Regions from separate parts of the Homo sapiens genome. Here region 2 is linked to region 1. A link means that fine-mapping ties the variant in region 1 to the expression of a gene that starts in the linked region. Tissue or cell type: whole blood. Region 1 holds a variant in brackets; the other region holds the start of a gene. Each region is shown on its reference strand, or each on the opposite one.

What was found.
Region 2: it holds the start of TMT1B, and the variant in region 1 is fine-mapped to the expression of TMT1B in whole blood (TOPMed, PIP 0.98).

The regions. Positions count from the first base shown.
Region 1 is chr6:107,729,375-107,740,483 of GRCh38, reverse strand. The region is part of intron 5 of SCML4 (Scm polycomb group protein like 4); the gene reads left to right. Among named protein-coding and RNA genes, the nearest start is that of SCML4, 89 kb to the left of the region's middle. The variant G/A (reference allele first, on the strand shown) is at 5,969.
Region 2 is chr12:55,676,176-55,687,284 of GRCh38, reverse strand. TMT1B (thiol methyltransferase 1B) reads right to left here and starts at 5,549. Exons shown (of 2, transcript NM_152637.3): 1 at 5,033-5,549; 2 at 2,674-3,472. The coding sequence starts at 5,530. The coding sequence ends at 3,236. It overlaps ITGA7 (integrin subunit alpha 7), which reads left to right. Exons shown (of 25, transcript NM_002206.3): 25 at 1,997-2,717. The coding sequence ends at 2,227. RefSeq lists enhancers at 1,689-2,188, 5,215-5,890.

The DNA of each region.
Region 1 (11,109 bases):
TCTGCCAGCCAAGGGCCATCTTTTAGAGCTTGTCTCTCAAGCTCCAGAGGACAGATCTCAAGCTATTCATGTGTTCACACTGAAGCCATGCACTGGATCATTTTCTCCAAAATTTCTCTTCTAGTTAAACTGTTTCTCCGCCTCTACAACCTCGTTTGCAGGATGGATGTGGGTGGTCATCTGTTGGTGTAAAACTGGCTTTCCACCATCTCTTTTTACAAGACCCGCATGGTGGTCTCACACTTTATTGTGGTATATGGTGTCTGTTGTCTTGCAGCTCAGCTAAAACTGAGCCTAAAATGGTTTCCTTTTAACATCTTATTCCAGGAGGATGACAGCCTTCCTTCCTAAAAGCTGATGTCCCCATCTGAAAGCTGGTTTTCCTCCCAGTCAGCTGGGAGGTTTGGAAGTAATGACCCCAGTTGTTCTCTTGAGCCCTTTCCTAGCTCATAACTACTTTGAAAAAATAAATTGCTCTAAATTATCCAACCTTGTGGCACTGATTTCTCAGCAGAGCTGAGTGCTGTGAATTTTGCTTGTCAGGGAGCCTTGGGGAAAGTGGAGGAAGCAGCGATGGCATGGTAAGCTCTGAGCAGTACCCTCACCCCACATGTCTTTCCCACCAGTCTGTCATGAGCCCTACAATGACGCCATTAGGGAGTTTGCCTTTAGAGTAAGACATTGTCTCTTTAAGATCGCCTTGTCAAAGTTTCTTTAAATAACATGTCAAGTTACCAGTATGTTAGAGGATGAATTAGTTTATCATCCATTTTCTCACCATTGTGACAAGAAAGGCATATGCATTTGTATGAGGGAAGGGTGGAGGTTTTTTTTTGTTTGAGGCTCCATACATCCATAGGACCACATTGTTCCCGAACAGGATTGTAAGGTCATGGGCTTATCTGCATCAGGACAATGCCTGGTTCTGCTTGGCCCCAGGGTTGTTCTGTTCAAGTTGAAGAGTTCCAGGATTGGTGCCATGCACCTAAAGGGCTTGTCAACACTCACTGGAACATTTCCAGAAGACAGTTAATCACATGATAAGAAGATGCAAAGCCATGACAGCTAAGGAACTATGGAAAGAACTGGGATGTTTTTGGTAGAAAAAAAGAGAAGATTTGGGAAAGATGTGATTTTATGTTCCAGTATATGACAGCAGGTCAGGTGGCTTTGTTCTCTGTGGTCCTGTAGAACAGAACTGAGACTAAATAAGTAAAAGGTAGATTGAATTAAATCTAAGGTCTTGTCCCTCAAACTCTGGTCAGGGGCATTGTTATCACCCACCAAAGCCAAAAATCTCAGTGGCCCTGCCAAACTTTCAAACAACAGATCCCCAGGTGCTTTGAAGACACATTAGAGAAGCATAGATTTAAGGAACACTCTCCCAGGTAGAGAACTTAGCAGTTAAATAACCAGATGGAACTCTCAGAAGATAGTTCCCTTGGGAGTCAGGTGGAGTTGACATTGTAAAGAGCTTTGAAATGTCAAAGCCACTCAGAATTTGAAGGGGCTGCTTGGAAGGTAGGTGATAATGATCTCCCCATTGTTGGTGACAAATATGTGTGACTTGTTAGGGTCATTAGTGGGAATGTTGGCCACCTGGAGGAGTAGGAGCAAGATGTTCTCGCTGGTCCCTTACAGGCTGACAGCTCCGGGCTGGAGGTGGCAGAGAACAGCCCTGTACAGCGGGAGGGCAGGTTACCTTCAAAGCATTAGCAAGGGCCTCCCAGAGGTGAAGGTATGGGCACCAAGACAAAGTGGCTGTATTAGAAGCAAGACCTCTTCCCTTGAAGAAGAGGGAGGGCTTCTTCCACATCTCTTCCTCAGACTTTTGAAATATAAACTCTCGATCCTTTTTTTTTCAAGATGGACTCTCTCTCTGTTGCCCAGGCTGGAGTGCAGTGGTACGAACTCGGCTCACTGCGACCTCCACCTCCTGGATTCGAGCAATTCTCCAGCCTCAGCCTCCCAAGTAGCTGGGATTACAGGTGTGCACCACCACACCTGGCTAATTTTTGTATTTTTATAGAGACGGGATTTTGACATGTTGCCCAGGCTGGTCTTGAACTCCTGACCTCAGGTGATCTGCCCGCTTCGGCCTCCCAAAGTTATAAACTCCCTATTCAAATGATATTTTTCCTGTGCTTAGGGAAAATCAGCCTTCAGGCTTCCCTGCTGCCTGAATTCAGCCTGGAAGTTAGAGTTCTTGGCCTGAGACCAGGAACTTAGTTATTTCCCTCCAATTCTATTAGCTGACATCTGAAGGTGGTTTGTGTTTGGGGAAGTAACACAGCTCCCTGGGTGTTTTAGGAGAATGGAGGCAGAAAGATGGATTTGATAACACTGGTGGCTCTGTCAGAAGTCATGAGATGACCACGGGGAAAATTGTTGTTGCCTTTGAGTGTTAAAATTTAAAAAGACCCAAGTATAAATATGCTTTAGCCAGTGCTTCTCAAACTTTAATGTGCAGAAACCACCTGAGTATGTTGCTAAAATTCAGATTTTGGTTCAGTAAAGCTGGGGTGGGGCCTGAAAGCCTGCATTTCTTTTTTTAAAAAAAATTAATTAAGCTAAATTCAATTTTTTATTTGTACAAGTTTTTGGGGTACAAATGTAATTTTGTTACATGCATAGATTGCACAGCGCTGAAGGTAGGGCTTTTAGGACACCCATCACCCAAATAATGTACATTGTACCCATTATGTAATTCTCCTCTTCCCTCCCACCCGGCTCACCATTACAAGCCTGCATTGTCTATCATTCCACAAGACAGTCTGCCTTTTAACAGGTGCCCAAGTAATACTGGTGCTGCTGATATTGGTGCAGCTGATAGGGCGGGGGCCACACCCTGAGTGATAGAGTGTGGGTGGGCTGGCAGAGTCCTGCTCACACAGAGAAACTTATTCCAAGTTTTCAGTACAGGAAGTCTGTCTGTGCTAAGATGGTTCTTCTCTGCTATAAGTGTGGCCCCTGAAGATGATCCAGTGTTGAGTGGAGGTGTTTTGTGGGCTGGAAGGGAAGAGAAGGGCATGAAGGGCAGAGTGGTTGGATCGAGGTGGCACTTGTATAAATCCAGGGGAGAAAGACAAGGCTTGCATATCTGGGGAAGAGGGTGAAAGATAGGAAAGAATGATGACAAACAAACAAATTTCTCCCCATGGCCAGCAAGCACCTGAAGCATGGTCTCTGGTGCCCTGTAAACCTTCCCCAATCCGAAGAAGGTATCCCTCTGTTCTCCCCAGATCCTTATTTCCACGTCCACAATGGCATTTGATTCTGCTTTATATTGCAGGACTCTGCATCCAGATCTCTTCTTCCTGCTAGATAGACCTGGGGGTCCCCAGCAGAGCCTGAAACACAGCAAACACGCAGTAAATACCTACTGACTTGAATTCTATGCAACACGACAGAACAAATTGTCTGCTCACCAAGAGTAGGAGATCTTTGGAAACCACAAATGTGAGAGTTGAACTATTCTGCAAGATCTAATTTAGTTGCTGGTTTCCTGCCTTTTGAAGGTTTAGCATAATGGGGACAGATTGTTTACTTTTGCTGAGTAGCTTCTTTGATATACAGATGGCAGGGGGTGGAAGATGAGAACGGACATTTATTCTTGAGGCTTACTGTTTCCTTCCTTGGCTGGTGGTCTTTGAGCAGGCACCAGAACACCCTCCCAGTAATAGTCACTCACAGTGTTCCATTACGGTTGAACCTATACACTCAGCATTGAGAAATGAAACCTGCTTCCTATCCAACAACACATTTATCTAGTAGAATAACATTACAGAGAATATATGGAGAATGTCTATCTTTACAAAAGATCATTTATTTTTAAAAGGGAACAGAGTTCATCAAGAGGCATGAGTTTCATTACATGGACCCATCCATTTAGTCAGTTGGCAGATAGTGCTGAGCTCCCCTGTTGGTAATGCAGCGAGGCGCACAGGGCCCAGGTCACTTGTTTAGAGCCACACACACAGCAAGATAGCAGCAGGGAGGAAACCGAGAGCAGGTCTTCTCATCCCCGGCCCTTTGCTTTTCCTCTCCAAGTTTTTCCTTATTCCAAGTTTTTCTGCTGTCTGTAAGGCCCGTTATCCAGCACTGGCTGCGTGGGGTGTGCATCCCTGTTTCTCAGCTCAGAGGGCTGACTGCACACAATAGATGTCCACAAGGGGCTTGTGGTACACCTGTGTTGCTTCTAGCAAAGATGTGAAAGAACAGAACAAACCCCAGCCCTCATTTAGCAAAATCAAGGAGGAAACTACACTCTAGGAAGATCAATTCTCTTCTCCTCCTGGGTTTCCTGCCTTTCCCACACGGGATGTTTTCCCCGTGTCCTTGTGTTCTGGCTACATCGGGGCTGGATGACAACCACGGGGCAGGCACAGCCCATCATTCCAGCTGCCAGGGAACTTCCTCATTTCTACAAAACCCACACAAGTAGCCTACTCCACCAGACAGTGGCAGAGTTTGATCTAGTGTTTGAATTAATATGTGGAATGATGGGTAGAAAAAGAAAAGAAATAAAGGGGGAGTTCTTGATTAATGGGTATAGAGTTTCAGTTTTACAAGACGAGTTATGGAGATAGATGCTGATGATGGTTATGCAACATTTTGAATGTATTTAATATCACTGAGCTGTATGCTTAGAAATGGTAAAGATGATAATTTTTTTTTTTTTTTTTGAGACAAGGTCTTGCTCCATCATCTAGGCTGGAGTGCAGTGGCGTGATCTCGGCTCACAGCAACCTCCACCTCCAGGGTTCAAGTGATTCTCCTGCCTTAGCCTCCCAAGTAGCTGGGATTACAGGAGCCTGCCACCATGCCTGGCTAATTTTTGTATTTTTAATAGAGATGGAGTTTTGCCATGTTGGTCAGGGTGGTCTCGAACTCCTCAGCTCAAGTAATTCACCTGCCTCAGCCTCCCAAAGTGCTGGGATTACAGGAGTGAGCCACTGTGTCGGGCCATGACTTTATGTGATATGTGTTTTACCACAATAAAAAAAACTTGAAGAAAAAAAAACAGAACTGGAATCCCCCCGCCCTCAAAAACAGAAAGAAAGGAAAGGAATGAAGAGAGGTGCGTTCCTGCAGATGCCTTTGCACCTGCTTGTGTCCCAGTGCAGGCCACATGACTGGAACATTGTGGAGCTGTGTTTGTCACAGCCAAGGGCCACATGGACAAATGAGCTGTCTCATTCTCAAGCTGAGCATTGGAAAGGAGGTCATTTGGAAGGAGAATAAACTATTGACAAGCTCTGGTCTTAAGAATCCTTGCAGAAGGTTTTGATGAAAAGGTTGAAAAAGAGGCTGAGCTCGGTGGCTCACGCCTGTAATCCCAGCACTTTGGGAGGCCGAGGTGGGTGGACTGCTTGAGGCCAGGAGTTTGAAACCAGCCTGGCCAACATGGTGAAACCGTGTCTCTACTAAAAATACAAAACTTAGCCAGGTGTGGTGGTGGATGCCTGTAATCACAGTTACTCGGGAGGCTGAGGGAGGAGAATTTCTTGAACCCAGGAGGTGGAGGTTGCTGTGAGCTGAGATTGTGCCACTGCATTCCAGCCTAGGTGACAGAGCATGATTCCTTCTCAAAAACCACAACAATAACAACAACAACAACAAAAAGAAACTAAAAAGTGTCCATCAGTTTTGTAGAAAATACAAAAGCCTTCATATTTTTCCTGACACTTAGGGCCATAGAGGCCAAGCTAGAACCCTTACACCATGGAATAGGGAGTGTTCTCCAGGGTAGGAGTCCTCATCCTAATTCTCCCCATGTGCCTATGTAAATTCATTTAGGAAAAGCTTTATATTTTCAGTGATATCTTTCATTAAATTATGATATCTGTACATATTTTAAAATATTGAACTAAAAGGGAAAAATGTAATCTCTTTTTTAAAGAAGGTGCCTCCAGAGAAAAGCCTGCATTTCGTAGAATTTAAAATGGATTCTCTATTATGTCCAGCA[G/A]TTGATTGGATCCCTTTGCATTGTAAGGCTCAGGTTCTCTCTCATGTCCTGTAGATACCGAGGAAGTTATTTACTCCATAACTATTAACCAATGAATGAATGTTCCAATTAAGTTGTTTTAATCGCCCAAGGTATCTTCAATATGAACTAGAGTAATATTGAGTCACGTTGACCCCTTTGATAAAATTTTGGTAGAAAGTAACTGTATTCAAACAAACAAACAAAAGAAGTGAACACTCTTCTTGTCTAAATCACAATTTATTTTGTGGATTAAAGATGCCAGCACCTGAGACTTGAGGAGTAGAATGATGCTGGTGGTAAACCCCTTGCAGGCTTTCTACTGTTTGGGGGTGTGGAGGAGATAAAAAGCCTGAAAAAAAGAGGCCAAATGGACTCCTTCTTCCTAGAAGGCTGACCCCAGGAATCCTCTGAAAGACACCCCTACCTCTACCCTATGCCCACTCCTCAAATAACAAAATCTACTGGAAATCTCCTGTGTTCCATGAGGCGAACAGTCCCTCATGTGGCGCCCCCACTCCTCGATTCTCCGTGAGCCATTAGAGCTGGCCAGATGGCCGGGGGTCTCCCAGCCTCTCTATCAAATAGTTGTGTCTGTGTCCACTGCAGAAGATGTTCTGTTTCTGATGAGCCTGTCCAAAGAGGCTCCTGCCTCTGACAGAAGAGTAGGTCCGGGAGATGGGCCAGGCATCTAAGTAGATCCAAGGGGTTGGAAACCAAGTTCTCTGATTATACCTCAGAACAGTGGAAGCACAAGGACTGGTGGAAACAAAGGGACAGGGTATGTGAGATGCAGCCATTCGAGGCCTCCAGGACCTGCACAGGTTGTATTAGAGACCCCTTCTGGTTATTCCCCTGGACCACAACCCTGAGCCCCTGTGGCGGACCCTAAGGTACTGCTATCTGCAGGCTACTCACACCATTATCTGTTGTCCATGCTTGAGAACTAGGGTTAGAATGGCAAACCATGCCAAGAGGAGCTGAAGCAGCTTAGGAAACCAGTAGGCTTCTAAGATGAACTTCATGAACTCTCTCCTAATAGTGGTGCTTTCTGTGTTTCATTCATAAGCAACAAACCCTTTGCTGAAAAAAACTACAACAAACAAACATAAACTCCCTGGCAGAGAAGTGGGCAGATACTCTGTACCAGATCTATCCTAGCTACTGCTGAGTTAATAATGACAACTTCCAATCTGGACATGCAGAATCAAGAGGAATGAAACGGCTTCCTTTCTTCTGTCCACAATAGTTATCTTTTGCTGTGTCATAAATTACCCCCAACACTTAGGGGCTTAAAATAACATTTAGGGTCTCACAGCTTCTGTGGGTCAGGGGACCAGGTGCAGCCACAGGCCTTCTGGTTCTGAATCTCTCACAAGGCTGCATCTCAAACCTCAACTAGGGCAGGACCCACTTTTCCAGCTTTTTCACATGGTTGTCAGCAGGACTGAGTTTCCAATGAGCTGTTGGTTTGTTGCCAGATGGGTCCCTTTGCAGAGCATCTCACAGCACAGCAACTTGCTCCACCAGAGTGAGCAATGCTAGGAGTGCTGTGAACCTCTCTCAAAGTCGAGATGTCCATTTAGAAAGGAAACTTACAAGGCGTCCTCTATTCCAGGAACTTCAGCATTTTCCTGATTAAGGACCACTTTTAATTTCCCCAAGGTTCTATGAAAGACCAAAAAATTGTGGGGGCTGTGGAGGAAACAGCGTGACCACAGGATGTCCCACCCACTTCGCCTCCCCCAGCTCTCGGGAATTCTCATAAGCTTGGCGTGGAGGTTTGGCAAAGCTGCGAGATCATATGGAGGGTGGTATGGAACCTGCTCTCCTCCCGAGAGCACAGAAAGGCCATTCATTATCCCAAACAGATGACTTTGGTCAAAAATGCCTTTGGTCAAAATTTCCAAAGGAGGAAATCAACCCCTAGGCTTAGAACAAAGTCTTAGGCAAACCAGAAACATCTGAGAGGATGTAAGAAGTTCAGGTGTCAGGCATTAAAATTATGGTCGGTTGCTGTGCATCTCATTAGGGGAGAAAAAATAGAAATGTACTTAAATGGACCAGAGGGGAGTCATAAGGTTGATTCTCAGGGCTGAGTGATCTGAACTGCAGAGACAACCTTAGAGAGAAAATCCATACTGGCCAGAGACCAAGTTAATGGAAAATTTAATTGAAGCAAATGAAATGCTCAGCCTCATAGGTAGTATGGCCCTGTGCCCTTTGAACCAGAAAGGCTGGGCCAGGAGGCCACAGAGGGCCCTAAGGGAAAACTCCCTTATCTGCAAGAACAAGGGGCGGGACTGAGTTTGAGAAAAGAAAATCTGCAAACCTCCACAGGAGCCTCAGTGAAAGGCTGCATGCAGGGGAGGAAACCTTCAGGTTTTGGTCACCAGGAAGTCCGTTAGAGATTCACAGCAGAAGGCCCCTCTGCATCCCACAGCACCAAGCACGTGCTGGAAACCGGCGGTCCCCCAGAGGACAGTGGGAGAGGCTGCCGGGTGGCAGAGACACAACCACCAAGGTAGGCACCGAAGCACCTGTGTCTGGGCTCTGAGTAAAAGAGGTGCAGCTGGCACGAGCACCTGCTACTGCTTCCTGCGCCTTCTCCCTCCTGCCCCTCTCCTCGCAGGTCTCCTTTTCCTGTACTATCTAGGTGATGGCACCTGGCTAAGCAAAGAGGGGTAGCTGCTCCACAGCTCTACAAATCTGCGAACTGCACTCCTGCCTTTTCTAATCTGGGTTTCAGGGCTAGGAATCTCTGATGTTGCCATCTCTGTCAGCAAGCCGAACCAAACTGTTCACACACGGAGGCCACAGGACACTGACCATTGCCTGGGCAGGGTGTGGGGGTCGGCAGGGCTGGGCAGACCGGCAAAGGGGTCAGGCAATCAATCCTGAGCAAGGCCAGGGCTCCCAGTCTGGAGGAAGGTGGTCGTGCTGATTGTGGAAAGGGCTCACTCTGCAGCTGCTCCCTCAACTGGGAAGACTGATGCGGGAAGTGGGGGGTGAGAGAGAGAGAGAAAGACAAACAGGCAGAACTGTTTAGAGATGACAAATAGTGTCTAAGACTAGATGTTGTGGTTCTTATTGCCTTAATAGGTATTATGTGAGAATAATTTTGCATAGTGGAATTGTTGTGTTTCAGGACTTCATTTGGTTAGTGAATCCAGGTAAAATGCCAGTTTAGTTTTTAAAAATAAAATCAATAGTCCGAGCCCACTGGGCTGTAAGCAGTTAAGCCTTGTGTCCTAAGTGAGGAGAGCTGACACTTGGTCAGGAGCATCTATAGTTTTATACATAAGGTCCGTTTTCCCCTCCCTGCCGCTCTGTTTTGGGACTTTCTCTTTCTCTCTCTGGCTCGTGGCTTTCTCCTGCACCTCTTCCTCTTTCTGCTTCTCTCTTTGGAGGTTCTCTACATTTCAGGGGCTCACACCTGACCCTCCAGGACTGTAGCAGAAATGGGCTGCACCTGGGTGTCCTGGAAGCCATGGATGCAGGGGCATTACCTAACCCTATCTCCACCCCAGGCTTCAGCAAGGATCAGGGAGCAAGGGAGGAATCCACACACTCTGGACTCAGAACCCTGAAGCTTTGATCCCTAAACCGGAAGGCTTAGGCACAGTTCAGGTTCATATGCAAACAGGTATGCCTTGAGGCTTGAGTGGGTTTACATGCTTCTAGAGTGTTCTTTGGCCTCACTAATAGGCAGGCTTTATACACAGTGGCTGGAGGGAACCATAGTCCACAAGCAGGTTTAGCGATGGTGAAAAAGGACCATCAGTCTGTCCTGAAAGCTCCCAGGACGCCAAACCTTGAAAATGTGGCAGATTTCTTTGATGGGGCCACGTGTGTGTTTTCCTTTCTATTTAAGCATGCTCTCGTGACTGTGCAAAAGGCAGATCATTCTTTTTTTCTGGAGGAAAAGATTTAATGATTCTTAAATGGCAACATTAGTCTCTTGGCTGGATGCAGAGGGTTACAGAAGTGAGTAAAAAGCCACTCATTTACCTTGCTTTGTTAAGCTGGCATTCTCCACTGCAATTAAATGGCCTCACACAGGCTGGGTTGGAGCCTCTTGTTGATGAGCAGTGCCAGGGTGACAAGACAGCTTCTTTCAGATGGAAAACGATTTTGTATGGACACAGGAGGAAATTTCGACCATGAGTGCCTTCGCCTGTGAGCCCTACGGTCTGCCGGGACTCTGTGTGCAGGAGTTAGATCCTCCAACAGGTCGGCTGGCCCCATCTGGTGTTTGCTCACCAGTCAGCCACAAAAGCGCTTGAAAAGTGGGGGTTCCCTCTCCAGATACAGACTTGGTCCTTTCTTTTTACTGACTTTAAATATTGGATTTAGGTAAGAAACATATGTCACAGTTCAATTAAATTCTTAAGCTCCTAGTAGTTCTGCATACCTAGAATTCATCTGCCTCATGTTGGATGTTGAGGTGACCTAACATGTTGGATAGTGTAAAGGGTACATGTCCAGCAGTCATGTGTTTTAACTGAAGCAAGAAGAATTGAGGCTAGATGTAAGGAGGAACTTTTAGGCAATGAGATTCATAGCACAATGGCCTCACTCTAAAGGAGATTGTAAAATCTCTTTGGGGAAGCTTTCAAATAAAAGACTCAGTTATCTACCATAGTTTCTTTTCTAGACAACACCCTGCCTGAAGAGATAGGTTGGGGCTAGCTCAATGCATTCCAAATATTAATTTACCACCTTCACAATTTCTACTGTGTCTGAGTAACACTTATAGAACTGTCTACTCAAGATATTCCTTTACATTAACTCATGTCTTTTAATCTTAGCCATTAGTCAGCTTAAGCAATCATACTGTATCAGTGAAATCATTTTGTTTGATGTGCTAATTATATGTCGTGGATGTACATTGAAATACATGACAATAAAAAAACATTTACTGGTTGTCGTAGGCTGAATCGTGTATGTTCAAATTCTCGGGTATCTGGAACCCTTTTTGGAAATGGGATCTTATTTGGAAATAGGATCTTTGCAGATGTAATCAAGTGAAAGGGAAGTCATACTGAATTAGGGCTCTAATCCCATGACTGGTGTCCTTAGAAGAAGAAGGAAATTTGGACACAGATCGTGACACACAGAGA
Region 2 (11,109 bases), not on the chromosome of region 1:
AATCGCTTGAACCCGGGAGGTGGAGGTTGCAGTGAGCCAAGATTGCGCCACTGCACTGCAACCTGGGGGACTGAGCAGGACTCTGTCTCAAAAAAAAAAAAAAAAAAAAAAAAAAGAAATCAGATGCAGATCTCGTTCTCAGGGATTTTATAGTCCAGTGGGATGGGAGTGGTGAGCCTGTAGTCAAGGACAAGGCAGGAAGTGTTGAGTTGAGAAAATGGAGTGGGAGTTTAGAGGGAAAAAAGCTTGAGAGGAGGTAGCACTGGAACCAGTCCTCAGAGGAAGGTGGGGTAGTAGGGTGAGGATGTAAGGGGATGAGGTAGGTGGGGTCCAGCAGGACCATGGTAGGCAAAGTCGTGGAGGCAGAGAAGTGTGATCTGACTTAACTAGAATGTGGCAGTGAAAACTGGAAAGGTAAATGTGGCCAAGAAGGCCAACAAGCACGGAGAACGGCCTCCAGGGGACTGCCCTCATGGCGGAACTCAGAGCTTCCACATACCAGGCTCTGCATGGAAGCATTCTTGTACACCCAGAGCTGTATACCGAATCATACTGGTATCCAGGGCTCAATGTAAAAGTATGCACATGCACACGTCAGTACACGGAATCACATACATCACCGGGGTCATATGCTGAGCCATCTGCCACATCGGGGGCTATGTTCAGAACCACACATGTCCTTGGGGCTCTGGAGAACTGCCCCTGCCTGTGCCTGCTCTTTGGGACCAATCAGAGACTGAGCCACCCTTTGGCAAGTGTGAATCATCAGTAGACCAGGCTCTGGAGTGGCATCCAAGCTGTTGGGAACCTTCCCAGTCTTAGGGGAGATTGATGCCTCTGTGAAACTGGTCCCAGGATGCTTGCTCCCTGCTCCCATGGAAGGAAGACAGAGCAGAGATAGGGGATCCTGTCCTTCCTCAATCTTTCCATCCTCTGCTTCCTCTGCCCTGCTTCTCCCTCGACATCCTAGTGTGGCTTCTTCCATCGGAGCAGCCAGAGCTCATCTTTTCCCACCAACTATCACCGGGCCTGTCTGGCTGTGCAGCCTTCAGCCATGGAAGTTGGGGGTCCAGGGACTGTGGGGTAACTGTTGTGTGTGTGCATGTGTCTAGTGTGTGTGGGTATGTATGTGTGTGAATATAAGGAGAATTCCCAGCATTCAGGGGATCAGGAATGTTCAGGGTGAAAAATGAGATTGCATGAGAGTGATGTGAGGTGAGAGGTAATTAGAAGGGTGCAGATATAAGGGTAAGTCTACACAGCCTGAGGCGTGCACAAAGGGTTGGTGGGCTCATGGGGTGTGAGCATGTGGGAGTGTGGGGAGGTCGCATGCATGCTTTTTTCTATGGGCATGAGTGTGCAAGGAGATGAATGTGTAAGGAGATGCCATGCAGTCTGAGCATGTAGGAGTCCTGGGCCTCTGAGTGTGAGTGTGCAGGGGCACATTCCCACCCTGGTGTGTAAGGGCCAGCATGGTCCTCATTTAGGGTGGGGCTAGACTACTGTATTGATGGACAAGAGGGTATTGCTGTAAGGGGCGTGCCGCCCAAGGTACAAGTACACGGGGTGCATGTTTATGAGGCTTGAGAGGTATCATTCCAGAGATGCAGGGGACTAGGAAGCCATTTTCTTCCTCAGGTCTTGTTTGTGTTCTGGGGGACACTATTGGGTCTCTTAAGAAGCTAGAGGGGGTACAAATCTTGAGTCCGGTCCTGATGCTCCACCCTCAAGGCCCTCTTTCAGGGGCCAAGGGAGATACCCTTGGTCCTGCCTCTTGGACGCCCTTCTGGTCTCTCTCTTGCTGTGAATGAGAACCTGGGGACACAGCACTGATGGGAGCACCGTGGGTGCTGCCCACCACACCAGATGCTATTCAGCCTATTTCCTTTCTGCCGCAGCAGGGATGGTGAGGGTGAGGAGCTGTGCCGCGCTAGGCATCTGCTCCAGGGACCGCAGCTCTTCAGGCTCCTCATGGTCTGGCCTGGTGTCCTTATAGATGGGATTCTTCAAACGGGCGAAGCACCCCGAGGCCACCGTGCCCCAGTACCATGCGGTGAAGATTCCTCGGGAAGACCGACAGCAGTTCAAGGAGGAGAAGACGGGCACCATCCTGAGGAACAACTGGGGCAGCCCCCGGCGGGAGGGCCCGGATGCACACCCCATCCTGGCTGCTGACGGGCATCCCGAGCTGGGCCCCGATGGGCATCCAGGGCCAGGCACCGCCTAGGTTCCCATGTCCCAGCCTGGCCTGTGGCTGCCCTCCATCCCTTCCCCAGAGATGGCTCCTTGGGATGAAGAGGGTAGAGTGGGCTGCTGGTGTCGCATCAAGATTTGGCAGGATCGGCTTCCTCAGGGGCACAGACCTCTCCCACCCACAAGAACTCCTCCCACCCAACTTCCCCTTAGAGTGCTGTGAGATGAGAGTGGGTAAATCAGGGACAGGGCCATGGGGTAGGGTGAGAAGGGCAGGGGTGTCCTGATGCAAAGGTGGGGAGAAGGGATCCTAATCCCTTCCTCTCCCATTCACCCTGTGTAACAGGACCCCAAGGACCTGCCTCCCCGGAAGTGCCTTAACCTAGAGGGTCGGGGAGGAGGTTGTGTCACTGACTCAGGCTGCTCCTTCTCTAGTTTCCCCTCTCATCTGACCTTAGTTTGCTGCCATCAGTCTAGTGGTTTCGTGGTTTCGTCTATTTATTAAAAAATATTTGAGAACAAAACCTCTGCCTCTTTGAGTCTTGCTCTGGCATCCCCAGCATCTCTGATTCTCCCTGGTGCCCCCAGCTCAGGAAGAAGGTGGTAGTGGGGAGAGAGGGTCAGGGGGGCTTGGCAGGGATGCAGGCACCATGACTTTTGTGACCAGTTCCTAGAGACGCATGGGTGTAGCCTCAGGAGGAAAGCGAGAGGAGCTTTACCATGGGAACGAAGGAAAGGGACAACATTGGGAGGCAAACGTTGGGAGACTAGTCCAGAAACTTGCAGTTGAGGATACAACAGGGTCCTAGTGTTTCCTCCCTGGGTCAGCGTAGAAGTAGAGCTTTTTCACTGTCGAAGGCGGGATTGAAGTTAGAGATTGCCCTGGCAGAGGTTGGGGAGAGAGGGACTAGTAGGTGGTACATGAATGTCTTCTCTCATTCTGCTAGGTCCCTCTCAGTGGAAGATAGATAGGCTGGTGGGTGGCTTGTTCTAATTGGAGGCTGGGGAAGGAGCAAATGAGTGCCTTGGAGCTTGGGAAAGATTATTTGACAGCCTTTCCCATGATGTGGGGCCCAACAGGTAGCCACTTCAAGGGAGGGGGCTGTCGTTCCATTTGGATTTCGGAGAACTGGGCGTTCTCAAGATCCTTCCAGGTCTCTCTGGTGAGGCAGCAGCCATCCCCAATGTGTTTCCAGGTGGGCTCGAAAACTTGCTGCCACATGAAGGCCCAGCTTCCATATGGTTCTGCCACATGCTCCCAGAAAAAGAGCACACCTCCCTGGGAGGGATGAGAGAGTTAGTGTCACTTGGCTCCATTCTGACCCTGCTCCCTATCGCGCTGATCAAGACAGTCAAACTTCTTGGTGAAATGGGAGCTGCTGGTCTGAGAGTTCATGGAGCAAACTGTCGTGCCCCTGACCTTTTCTGCATCCCCTGCTACCGCCTTCAAAGTGCATGTGAAGAACCTCATAACTGAAAGGAGTGGCTGGTGGGAGATCTTTAAAGCCTGACCAGAATAACCGAGGGCATGCAGAAGGGGAAACTGAGAAACAGGAGTGGAGGGCTCATTGTATTATTATTATTATTATTATTTTTTGAGACAGAGTCTCAGTCTGTTGCTCAGGCTGGAGTGCAATGGCGTGATCTCGGCGCACTGCAACCTCCACCTCTCAGGTTCAAGCGATTCTCCTGCCTCAGCCTCCCAAGTAGCTGGGATTACAGGCATGAGCCACCACGCCCGGCTACTTTTTGTATTTTTCAGTAGAGACAGGGTTTCACCATGTTGGCCAGTCTGGTTTCAAACTCCTGGCCTCAAGAGATCCACCTGCCTTGCCTCCCAAAGTGCTGGATTACAGGCGTGAGCCACCTCGCCCAGCTGGGCTTATTGTATTCTGAGATACACGCACAACCTCTCTCACAAAACCCAGATGCATGCACAAGCTGCTTCCTGGACATCGCTGTGAACATCCCAGGGAAACCTCAGGCCCAACTCTTGACTGAAGCTGGGGTTCCTCAAGCTCCTCGCCTCACTATACTCTCCCTAGGTGATCTCAAACCTAGTAAGTCCAAAACAGCTTTCTTCCATCTCAGCAAATGGCACTTTTCATCAGCTCTCCCCTCAGTTGCTCATGCTAGAAACCTGGAAACTATTCTGAACGTTCTCTCCACAGTCTGATGGATTCTACTCTACTTCCCCTACTATCTTTACCTAGAACACTCTTTTATTTTCCCCACCCCGTCCACACTCTGCTTAATCCCTCAGATCTCTCTCTCTCTCTCTCTTTTTATTTATTTATTTATTTTTTTTGATACAGGGTCTCACTCTGTGGCCCAGGCTGGAGTGCAGTGGTGCGATCATAGTTCACTGTAACTTTGAACTCGGGCTCAAGTGATCCTCCCACCTCAGCTTCCTGAGTAGCTAGGACTATAGGCATGTGCCACCACGCCTGGCTAGCTTTTGTATTTTTTTTTTTTTTTTTTTTTGTAGAGACGGCATCTCACTATGTTGCCTTGGCTGGTCTTGAACTCCTGGGCTCAAGTCATCCTTCTGCTTCAGCCTCCCAAGCACAGATCTCGATTTAAACCTCAGTTCCTTAGGTGTCCTCCCCACTCCCCTCCCTGTCCCATGGTGGTAGGTGATCCTCCTGTTGCTTCCACAGCACCCAATTGTGCCCCGTCATGGCACTGGTCATGTCTCCTATTCACCAGCAGGTAGAGGTGGATGGGGTGTCTAATGTGCTACTTACTACCTCAGACGCCCCATTCTGGGGGCCGAACCCTGGGGCGGCTGATGCTGCGTTTGCCTGCCCCACACCCATCCCCTTCCCACCCTGCTTACCGGTCTCAGTACTCTCCGGACCTCCTGCAGGACCTTCCTTGGGCTCTGCACAGAGCACAGCACCAGAGTGCAGACCACCACATCCATGGAGCCATCAGCCAGCTGTCTCATGTCCTCTCCAGGAGCCACCACAAACCGCTCATATTGGAGGTGCCTGTTCTCAGCCATGCTCTTTGTCAGGAACTTCTCAAAGTGGGGATTTGGGTCTAGGCAGGTGACCCTGCAGCCCGGTGGGTAGAACTGAAAGTTGGCTCCGGTTCCGCAGCCCAGCTCCAGTAGGGCCACTTTCCCGGAGGCTCCTGTAAGCCCCTTTATCTGGCTGAAGAGCTCCCGTTTCTTGCTCTCCATCTTGCGGTTGCTCTTGGGAGTCAGCACGGCCATCAGGTAGGGGAAGTAGCTTTTGCACAGGGGCTGCCAGCAGCCCAGCAGAGCCATGAGGTGCAGGGGCAGGGTAAGAAGCAGCACCAGCAGCTGCAGGAGTGGGACCAGGATGTCCATGGCAGACCAGCTCTGAGCTGTGCTTCCGCTGGGGCACTGGCTTTTTCCCTGCTCAGCCTCTGCAGGCGCTGGCGTCCCCTCCCGCTGTGATAGGACTTTGCTCCTTGTCTCCTACTTGACAATTTCCTATTTGCCAGAGTTGAGTGGGTGTATGGAATTCCTCCAGAGGGCGCAGGTCCCACAGCCCCACAAGCTCTTCAATGACTTTTATGTGGGCGGAGGGACAGGTGGTACCCATGTTCCTGAGTTCTGGGGCACTGTGCCCAGCTGAAGGGGGGCAGGGGCTGCTGAGTCATCTCAGAGGGAGTGGGAAGGGGTAAGGGGATATGTTTCAGATGACAGACTCATGGCGGGGGAGTGTCGGGGGCTGGCAGGGCGTTGGGGGTGGGTTGGTAGTGGTGAATGCTGGGGACAGAGTTGACTCATGGGACATATCCTGGCCTCATTTCGTCCTCAGGTCAGGCACTTCAGAGGGGCCATAGGAAGGGAAGGGTGCTCTTGGCAGAGGAAAAAGTAGGTGTACAGGACAGAGACAGCATGCCCTCTCCTGGAAAGGGTGAGAAGTTTAGTTCTGTGGGGAATGGGGTAAGTTGGACAAATAGGGGGAAGTGAGGTCAGAGAATAGCCACTTTTTAGAGATCCTTCCCTCCCTCCCTCCCTTCCTCCCTTCTTTCCTTCTTTCCTTTTTTTGAGACAGGGTCTCTGCTGCCCAGGCTGGGGTGCAGTGGCAGCAGTCTGGGCTCACTGCAACCTCAATGTCCCTAGGCTCAAGTGATCCTCTTACACCAGCCTCCTGATTTTCTGGGACTACAAGTGCATACCACCATGCCCAGCAATTTTTTTTTTTCTGTAATTTGTAGAGACAGGGTTTCACCCTGTTGCCCAGGTTGGTCTTGAACTCCTGGGCTCAGGTGATCCACCCACCTCGACTTCCCAAAGTGCTGGGATTACAGTTGGGAGCCACTGCGCCTGGCTGAGAAGAATTCTTTTTACAAAACATTATTAAACAACTTTTTTTGGAAGAGGCAGTACATTCACTTAGTACAAAATTAAAAAGATACTAAAGAGATTACAGGGAAAATTCTCTCTTCTACTCCTGTGACCCAACCACTCAGATCTCCTCTCTGGAGGCACTAAATGCCATATTGCCAATTTCTTGTGAATCCTTCCAGAGATGACCTGTGAACGAGCAGGGAACACACACACCACGTGTTTAGATCCATGTACATATATACATATACATATTCCCTTTTCTTTTACAAATAGTAGTATATTGTACACACTCTTGTATACCTTGCTTCCCCCCCTTCTTAACAATGTATTGGATTTAGTAGATAATAGCAAATGGGTTTCCAAAGTGATTGTACCCATTTACACGTCCACCAGCAATATTTGGTTTTATGTGTCTTTTATGTGTTCATATTATTATTGATGCATAGATTCCTATTTTATTCACTGATTTGTAACCTAATACCCTATTTATTTATTTACAGTTTCTTTGAGGTATAATATATATAAGAAGGTTTACATATTTACAGTATATAGATTATTTTTGACACAGTATATACCTGGGAAACCATTACCACAGTCGAGATAATGAACATGTCTATGTGTTAGGCTTTTGCATTGCTGTTAAGAAATACCTAAGGCTGGTTGATTTATAAAGAAAAAAAGTTTAATTGGTTCATAGTTCTGCAGACTGCACAGGAAGCATGGCACCAGTATCTGCTTGGCCTCTGGTGAGGGTCTCAGGGAGCTTACAATCATGGTGGAAGACGAAGGGGAGCAGTGTATCACATGGCAAGAGAGGGAGCAAGAGAGACCTTGCGTGAACTGCCAGAGCGAGAACTCACTCATCACCAAGGGGTTGGCACTGAGCCACTGATGAGGGGTTGGGACCTCAGGAGCCAAACACATCCCACCAGGCCCCACCTCTGACATTGAGGATTACATTTCAACATGAGATTTGGAGGGGACAAACATCCAAACTATATCAGTTTCCTTGTGTTTCTTTGTAATCCATTCGCCCCTCTTTCATCCCCATCTTCAGGTAACCGCTGATCTGCTCTCTGTCAGTATAGATTAATTTCTCTTCTCTTCTCTTCTCAGGCAGAGTCTCACTCTGTGGCCCAGGCTGGAGTGCAGTTGTTTGATCTTGGCTCATTGCAACCTCCACCTCCCAGGTTCAAGTGATTCTCCTGCCTCAGCCTCCTGAGTAGCTGGGATTACAAGCATGCACCACCATGCCCGGCTAATTTTTGTATTTTTAGTAGAGACGGTGTTTCACCATATTGACCAGGCTGGTCTCAAACTCCTGACCTCGGGTGATCCGCCTACCTTGGCCTCCCAAATAGTTTGCATTTTCTGGAATTTTGTGTAAATGGAATCCTATAATGTATGGGATTTCAGCATCTGGCTTATTTCATTCAGCATGTTTATTTGGAGAGTCATCCATGTTGTACATGCATCCGCAGTTCATTTCCATTTCTGAGTAGTATTCCATTGTATGGATATACCACATATATTTTTATCCATTCACTTGTTGATAAACGTTTGGGTTGTTTCCAATTTCTGACTGTTAGAAATAAAGCTACTATGAACTGTTTGTGTACATGGGTTTGTGTGGACGTATGCTTTTATTTCTCTTGGGTGAATACCTGGGTGTGTATTTTGATGTTCAAATTGCCCTAGATTTGGCTGGGGGAGCACCTGCAAGCTGGCTCCTGTCTCCTTTTGACACAACTCCATCACTCTTTGAGCATTTTCTTACTTTCTGCTACAAGAAGATGTTCCAGGCTCATCTTGTATTTCCCCTGCTCCAGCCCCGAACTTAGTTATTTCTCAAAGAAGCACTGGTCTTTTGTGAGGAGGATGGTATTTAAAAACCAAGATCTGAATGCTGGATGTGATTATCACTGGGGAGTAATTGCTCCTGGGCCTGCTCCATGGACACAGAAAGAGGCAAAGTAGTATTATCCTGTGCTTTTTATTTGCTCTTTTCTTTTTCTTTTCCTTTTTTTTTTTTTTTTTTCCTGAGACAGAGTCTCACTCTGTCGCCCAGGCTGAAGTGCAGTGGCACTATCTCGGCTTGCTGCAACCTCCGACTCCCGGATTCAAGCGATTCTCCCTCCTCAGCCTCCCGAGTAGCTGGGATTACAGGCGCATGCCACCACACTTGGCTAATTTTTGTATTTTTAGTAGAGACAGGGTTTTACCATGTTGGCCAGGCTGGTCTCGAACTCCTGACCTCAGGTGATCCACCAGCCTCGGCCTCCCAAAGTGCTGGGATTACAGGTATGAGCTGCCGTGCCCGGCTTACTTACTCTTTTCTGCGTGAGGTTGAATTTTTGTTTCTTATAATTAAGAGCCTCTGTATTTCCTTTTCTAGAAATTTTCATTTTATTTTTTATTTTTGAGATAGCCTTGCTCTGTCACTCAGGCTGGAGTGTAGTGTGCGATCACAGCTCACTGCAGCCTCAACCTCTCAGGCTCAAGCAATCCTCCCACCTTAGCCTCCTGAGTAGTGGTCACCACAGGTATATGCCAACATGCCCAGCTAATTTTTCTTTTTTTTGAGACGGAGTCTTGCTCTGTCACCCAGGCTGGAGTGCAGTGGCATGATCTCTGCTCACTGCAAGCTCTGCCTCCCGGGTTCATGCCATTCTCCTGTCTCAGCCTCCCGAGTAGCTGGAACTACAGGCGCCCGCCACCACGCCCGGCTAATTTTTTTTTGTATTTTTAGTAGAGATGGGTTTTCACCGAGTTAGTGAGGATGGTCTCGATCTCCTGACCTCGTGATCCACCCTCCTCGGCCTCTGAAAGTGCTGGGATTGCAGGCGTGAGCCACCATGCCTGGCCAGACACACATATATATTTTTTTAAATTTTCTTTTTTTAATTACACTTTAAGTTCTAGGGTACATGTGCACAACGTGCAGGTTTGTTACATATGTATACATGTACCATGTTGGTGTGCTGCACCCATTAGCTGGTCATTTACATTAGGTATATCTCCTAATGCTATCCTTCCCCCCACCCCACCCCACGACAGGCCCCAATGTGTGGTGTTCCCCACCCTGCAGATACACAGATTTTCAATTGTGAGGGGTATCAGTCCCCTAGGTCCTGAGTTGTTCAAGGGTCAACTGTACAGCCATGTGCTGCATAACACATTTAGCTCAATGACAGAGCACATATATGATGGAGGTACCATAAGATTATTATGTAGCTGAAAAATCCCTGTCCTGTAGTGATGTCTTGATGATCCTGACCTTGTGTAGACCTAGGCTAATGTGTGTCTTTGTGTCTTAGCTTTTAACAAAAAAGTTAAAAAAATTTAAAAAATAGAAAAAGCTTATAGAATAAGGATATAAAGAAATAAAATATTTTTGTACAGCTGTAGAATATTTATGTTTTAAGCTAAGTGTTATTACAAGAGTCAAAGTTAAAAAAATTAAAAAGTTTATAAAGTAAAAAAGTTGCAGTAAGCTAAGGCTAGTTTATTATTGAAGAAAAGAAAAAAAAAATGTAAATAAATTTAGTGTAGTCACTCACTGACTCACCCAGAGCAACTTCTTGTCCTGCAAAGTCCATTCATGATATGTGCCCTATATAGGTATGCCGTTTTTAAATCTTTTATACTGTATTTTTTACCACACCTTTTCCACGTTTAGATACATAAATACTTAACATGGTGTTACAATTGCCTATAGTATTGAGTACAGTAACATGCTGTACAGGCTTGCAGCCTAGGAGCAATAGGTTACGCCATATAGCCTAGCTGTATAGTAGGCTACACCATCCAAGCTTGTGTAAGGACACTCTATGATGATGTTCCCGTAATGGTAAAATCACCTAACGATGCATTTCTCGGAACTTATTCCTGTTGTTAAGCAACATATGACTTAACATGTGACTGTATATTCAGAGTTGTGCAACCAGCCACCACAATCAATTTTAGAACATTTTCGTTACCCCAAAAGAAACTTGTGCTTTTACCACTTACTCCCATTTCCCCCATCCCCATCCCAACCCCAGTACCATCAATTTCCTTTCCGTAGGCAATCACTACTCTACTTATGTCTGTATGGATTTACTTATTCTTGACATTTCATGTAATTGGAATCATACTACATGTGGCCTATGTGACTGGCTTTTCACACAGCATAATGCTTCCAAAGTTTACACATGTTGTAGCATGTATCAATACTTCATTCCTTTTACGTCCAAGTAGCATTGCATTGTACAGATATGCCACATTTTGTTTATTTATTCAACAGTTGATAGACATTTGGGTTGTTTCCACTTTTGGGGTACTATAAACAATGCTGCTATGAATTCTTGTCTTCATTTTATCTTTCTTTCTCCTAAATCATTAATCTCTGCCTTTCCATGGATCTTTCAAAATATGAATATGCTCTAATATATTTCAGGTTAATAATAAACTGACCCTCTTGACACCACATGTCACTTTAGCTAAAACTCCATTTTACAAATCTATGTCAAAGTCTTTTTTTTTTGGCAGGATCTTGCTCTGTTGCCTAGGCTGGAGTGCACCATTCTGACTCACTGCAGCCTCAA